Linked DNA regions of Homo sapiens: region 1 is linked to region 2. The links come from fine-mapping of genetic effects on gene expression. A gene starts in region 2. The other region holds a variant in brackets. All regions are shown on one strand. Distances are between the middles of the regions. Region 1 overlaps CDIP1 (cell death inducing p53 target 1). Region 2 holds the start of CORO7 (coronin 7).

The links.
Region 1: its variant is fine-mapped to the expression of CORO7 in whole blood (TOPMed, PIP 0.99).

What each region holds. Positions count from the first base shown.
Region 1 is chr16:4,524,522-4,527,419 of GRCh38, forward strand. The region is part of intron 1 of CDIP1 (cell death inducing p53 target 1); the gene reads right to left. Among named protein-coding and RNA genes, the nearest start is that of CDIP1, 13 kb to the right of the region's middle. The variant C/T (reference allele first, on the strand shown) is at 1,776.
Region 2 is chr16:4,414,817-4,417,714 of GRCh38, forward strand. CORO7 (coronin 7) reads right to left here and starts at 1,780. Exons shown (of 28, transcript NM_024535.5): 1 at 1,643-1,780. The coding sequence starts at 1,702. CORO7-PAM16 (CORO7-PAM16 readthrough) reads right to left here and starts at 1,780. Exons shown (of 31, transcript NM_001201479.2): 1 at 1,643-1,780. The coding sequence starts at 1,702. It overlaps LOC124903635 (a long non-coding RNA gene), which reads right to left. Exons shown (of 3, transcript XR_007064963.1): 3 at 1,909-2,145.

The DNA of each region.
Region 1 (2,898 bases), 110 kb after region 2:
AGACCATAAGAAGGCATTCAGGGCAAGCCGACTCAGCCCGGAGCCAGGCCCTTCATCTTTCCTGCCTTCCTCCCATCTACCACCTGGAAGATAGATGCCATGGCTCCAGTAGCTGTGCTTCACCATGAGGGCCTTGGGATGGAGGCCAGTGCCTAGGACAGCCATGGGACACCACACCAGCAACTAACTGACCACCTCCCACATCTTCCACATGAGTAATAAAACTTGGTTTACTGGTTAATTATTGGTAAATTATTTTCAGGTTAAGTATTAACAAGTGTCATTACAAATATACAGCACAGACAGGTGCAGTGGCTCACACCTGTAATTCCAGCACTTTGGATGCCAAGGTGGGAGGACTGCTTAAAGCTAGGAGTTCAAGACCAGCCTGGGCAACATAACAAGATCCCATCTCTACAAAAAAATAAAATTAGCCAGGTATGGTGATAGACACCTGTGGTCCCAGCTACTTGGGAGGCTGAGGCGGGAGGATTGTTCTAGCCCAGGGATTCTAGGCTACAAAGAGCTATGTCACGCCAATGCACTCTAGCCTGGGCAACAGAGTGAGACTCTATCCCCCCTCCACCACAAAAATATATCTCTACAGTTCCTTAGGTCTGAAGGAACACAAGTTCTCTTCAAGTGATCCATGATCAAAAGGATCATGGCTTTCTTTAGGTCACATGACACAGCCTCAGCCAGTACAGAGGCCAAGGCATGGGGAATACTCCCTGGCGGGAAGGCTGGAGCAGATGCTTCCGTAGTTAAAACAGGCCCCGAGAGAAGTGCAGCTGGTTGCCTTGGAGCGAGGACACATTCTTCTGCAACTCCAGTGCTCATTTCAGCATGAGCACTGGCTCAAGGAGGAGCTGAGGAGGACGATGGCGTGCAGTGAACGTTAATAGAGCATGCACTGTTTGGATGCAGGTGCCCAGCACAGGGACATGAAGGAAGTGCTCCAAGTGAGGAGGTGCTCAAAAGGGAGCCCCTGCTGTGAGACTGCTCCTGGGCCCCAAACCCTCTCCACTCCCCTCTCCACCATGCCCTATCCAAACCTGGGGCTAATCCAGCCACCCAAGTCCATGTGGGACCAGGCCAGGATTCCCTGTGGCCTTTCGCAGCTGACCAGAGGGACCCTATTCCCAACGCTGGGTGATGAGCAGGAAAGAGGAGGCCCTCCACAAAGGTCCACTCAGTTGCAGAGCAGCCTCTAGTGAGGCTGAGCCCTCCCAAGACTCAGGGAGGTTGCCAATGTGTCCCCTTCTCTGGGACCGTTGTCCTCGGCTGCCAAGTTCTAGCACAGGCAGGCCTGGAAAATCCTGAACATGGCCCATTTCCCATTGTCCTGATGGAGGCAGGACGAGACAGTCCCTCCCTCAGATAACATCGCGGGTGGCTCTGAACCATTTATTTATTTTTACACTTGAAGATGGGTGTATCTGATGCCTTGGGAATTCTAAACACTTCAAAACAAGCTCAACTTAAGTCACAGAAAGGACCAGAAAACAGATCTGGTTTTCCCATCTGCCAGCTCTCCTCCCACCCAACCCTACATGCTCCTCCTCGACCATGATGAGTCTCAGCGGAAATAAGACACCAGCCTAGCCAGGCACGGTGGCTCATGCCTGTAATTACGGCACTTTGGGAGGCAGAGGTGGGCGGATCACGAGGGCAGAAGTTCAAGACCAGGCTGGCCAACATGGTGAAACTCTGTTTGTACAAAAAATACAAAAATTAGCTGGGCATGATGGCATCCGCCTGTAATCCCAGCTACT[C/T]GGGAGGCTGAGGCAGGAGAATTACTTGAACCCAGGAGGCGGAGGTTGCAGTGAGCCGAGATCACACCGTCGCACTCCAGCCCGGGCAATAGTCTGAGAATCTGTCTCAAAATATAAAAAATAGCTGGTCACGGTGGCTCACACCTGTAATCCCAGCACTTTGGGAGGCCAAGGCAGGCGGATCACAGATCAGGAGATTGAGGCCATCCTGGCTAACATGGTGAAAACCTGTCTCTACTAAAAATACAAAAAAATTAGCCAGGCATGATGGCGGGCGCCTGCAGTCCCATCTACTCAGGAGGCTGAGGCAGGAGAATGGTGCAAACCCGGGAGGCGGAGCTTGCAGTGAGCTGAGATCGCGCCACTACACTCCAGCCTGGGCAACAGAGTGAGACTCCATCTCAAAAAAAAAAAGATAAATAAAAATAAAATAAAAAATAAAATAAAAATAAAATTAAAAATAAAATAAAAAAGACATCAGCCCAACCCCATGGCCCCAAACACCACTGCGCCCTCCAACAGAAGCATGAGCCCTGTGTCGCAGGCAGAGCTGCAGGGGCAGAATCTTGCACCGAGTGGGGCACAGGCATCAGGCCCCACGCCCACCACCCTGCCCTGCCACCTGACTCTCCAGTCTCAGATTTTTTTTCATCTGTGATATGGCGGTAGGAGCAGCCCCTTATCAAGAATTGTGATGAGTCACGGGAGAGGCCATGGGTGAAGAGCACACCACTGAAGGCCTGCCACAGGAGCCTGAGAGAGGAAGTACACGAGAAAAAAGAAGACACTGTTACTTTTTTTTTTTTTTTTAGACGGAGTCTCGCACTGTCGCCCAGGCTGGAGTGCAGTGGCGGGATCTTGGCTCACTGCAAGCTCCGCCTCCTGGGTTCACACCATTCTCCTGCCTCAGCCTCCCGAGTAGCTGGGACTACAGGCGCCCGCCAACACGCCTGGGTAATTTTTTGTATTTTTAGTAGAGACGGGGTTTCACCGTGTTAGCCAGGGTGGTCTTGATCTCATGATCTCGTGATCCACCTGCCTCGGCCTCCCAAAGTGCTGCGATTACAGGCAAGTGCCACCGCACCCGGTGACACTGTTGCTCTTAAGCAGAAGCAAAATCAAA
Region 2 (2,898 bases):
GCTGTCTTGATGCAAACCTAGGTACCTCCTCCTAACTTTTCTTGTTTGTTTTTTTCTTTTTTTGAGACAGTGTCTCACTCTATTGCCCAGGCTGGTGTGTAGTGGCACAATCTCGGCTCACTGCAACCTCCACTTCCTCGGCTCAAGAGATCCTCCAACCTCAGCCTCCCAAGTAGCTGGGACCACGGGAGTGAGTCACCACACCTGGCTAATTTTTTTTTCTTTAACTTGTTGTTCAGAGGGGTTTCGCAATGTTGCCCAGGCTGGTCTCGAACTCCTGAGCTCAAAGCAGTCCACCCAAAGTACTGGGATTACCGTGAGTCATGGTATCCAGCCCCTCCCCCTAACTTTTCAATGGCTCTGCACTGCAATCAGAATAAAACCCAACTTCTTCCGGTGGCCCTTGGGTTCTGCAGGACCACTCTGGACTCATCTGTCACCATACTGCTCCGGCCATCCCCTCCATCCACTCATGCTCACTTTCCATTTCTCCACCAGGCTCTTTCTCAATTCTCACCCTTCTGGCCTCAGCTAAAATGCCATCTACTCCAGGCAGCCTTTCCTGACCACGCTACTGAGACTGGCCCCCTCCATTCTCCATCCCAGTCCCTCATGTGTGTTCTTCAATGTCGTTATGAAAACCTCCAATGCTCTTGTTTGTCTGCTTGCTGTCTCCCTCATGAGGCTACAAGTGCCACAGGGGAAGGAAAATGCCGTTGTGTTCACCGGGATGTCTCCAGCAGCTTAGCACAGCATAAAGTGGAAGCAGAGGAAATATAGTCCACACTACAAAAACGGAACCTCTACCCAGACTGCCCTGACTTGCTCTGGGACCCTGATGGGGTCACTTGAGGTCAACTCCTAGGCCCAGTTATCGGAGGACACTCCCAGGCCTTACAAATAACACGGAAAGCGGAAGAGCAGAGCTGACATCGTTTCCAAGGCGCACCCCTCATCAGTCCTCCTGCCGTTTCGGGGGTCCGAAGGGTCTCCCGGCACCTGGCTCAGCAATTCTTTGGGGCTCCACCTGCTCAGGCTTCCCCAGGCCCCACCCAGCCGTGGCAGCATCACCGAGATAAAGAAAGAGCTTGCGCCAGCGGCGAGAGGAGGAAGCACCGGCGGAAACCCGAGGGAGGGGCGCGTGCGGCCGAGGGGCTCCCTCCCCACCACTGACACACTTGGGCTCGCCGGGGCCAGAGGAGAGAGGGGCGTCTCCCCACAGCCCAGCCAGGGGCAGGGGCGACCCGGGGCGGCAGGGAGGAGGAGCCAGGCGCCGGCAGCGCCCCGAGCCCCGGCTCCCGGCGAGGCCGACCGGAAGCTGGGAAGGCAGGCGGCCTCGCAGGCCTGGGCCCCGGCTAGGAGGGCTGCGCCGCCTCGGGGGTCCCGGGGCGAGGTGGGCGAGGCGGGCAGACCGCCAGGGTCACCGAGCGCCAGAGCGAGTCACGGGAGTGCCGGACTCTGCCCTCCGGCGGCGACGAAACGGCCCGGACGCCGGGGCCCTGGCCTGAAGGGGGGTTCCCCGGGGATGGAGGTCTCGGGGTTCCAGACGGCCCTGGAGGGCACCCCTGTGGGGTCCGGGCAGGGGGAGGGGCAGCCGGACGGGGCCCGAGGCGACAGCGCCCGGTCCTCGGGCCGGACTCACCTCGCGGCGGGGCGGCCGAGCCTCGGTGTGCCGGAACTTGGACACCCTGAAGCGGTTCATGGCGACGGGCACGGCGGCGGACGCGTCTTCGAGGACCCCGGGCGTCGGGTCTCAGGTGCACGCTGAGCAACCGCGACTCCCGCTGCCTCGGCCCCACCCGGGACCCAATGCCGCGGTCACGCCCCCGGCGCGCCCCACTGCCAATCGCAGCCGTCTCCGGCCCCCTGGGCCACGCCCCCAAGCCCCTCTCCTTTCGCGCGCGCACCACCGGTCCCGCCTCCCGGCCAATCCAGGTACGGCCGCCCCGCGAGGCCACGCCCTGATACCGAGGGGACGGACTGGCGCGGGTGGGAGGTCACGTGGGGCGCAGCTGTCAGCCCACGTCTCCTGCGGTGCTTGCTTGCGTGGGGTCTCGGCTGCAGCATTCGCGATTTTGTGTGCAGGATTTGCTGTGGAGTCTTTGCGGTGTACCTAGCACGCCTTCCAGCACTATCTACCTCTTCCTGTAGAGAGGGGAGAAATTAGCTCCATTTCAGAGACAGGAAACCCCCGGCTAAAGGAGAGTGTAAACTGTCGGTCCCCAGGTCACACCAGTGGTAAGAGGCAGAGGGGGAACAGGGGCCCAGGTCTAAAGCAAATCCCTGTCCACCGGGCCTACTCAAAAGCCTCTGCATCCGGCCAGGCGCTCTGCATCCGGCCAGGCGCGGTGGCTCAGGTCTGTAATCCCGAACTTTGGGAGACTGAGGCAGGAGTATCCCTTGAGCCCAAGAGGTCGAGGCTGCAGTTATCTGTGACCGTGCCACTGCACTCCAGCCTGGGAGACAGAAAGAGACCCTGCCTCTAAAAATAATAATAATAATAGCTTTTAATTTTTCTTTAGTATTTATTCATTTATTTGACACGGAGTCCCTGTCACCCAGGCTGGAGTGCAGTGGCGCGATCTCAGCTCACTGCACCCTCTGCCTCGCGGGTTCAAGCAATTCTCTTGCCTCAGCCTCCCGAATAGCTGGGATTACAGGCGCCTGCCACCGCGCCCAACTAATTTTTTATTTTTAGTAAGAGACGGGGTTTCACCATGATGGTCAGGCTGGTCTCGAACGAGACTCAAGCAGTCCTCCCAACTTGGCCTGCCAAAGTGTGGGGATTATAGGAATGAGCCAACGCACCCAGCTGATTCTTGCATTTCTAAGGTTTGAAAAGCAATGCTTACATTTTATCTTAGTTCGGGCAGAAGTGTATTTACTGTGAACCAAAGT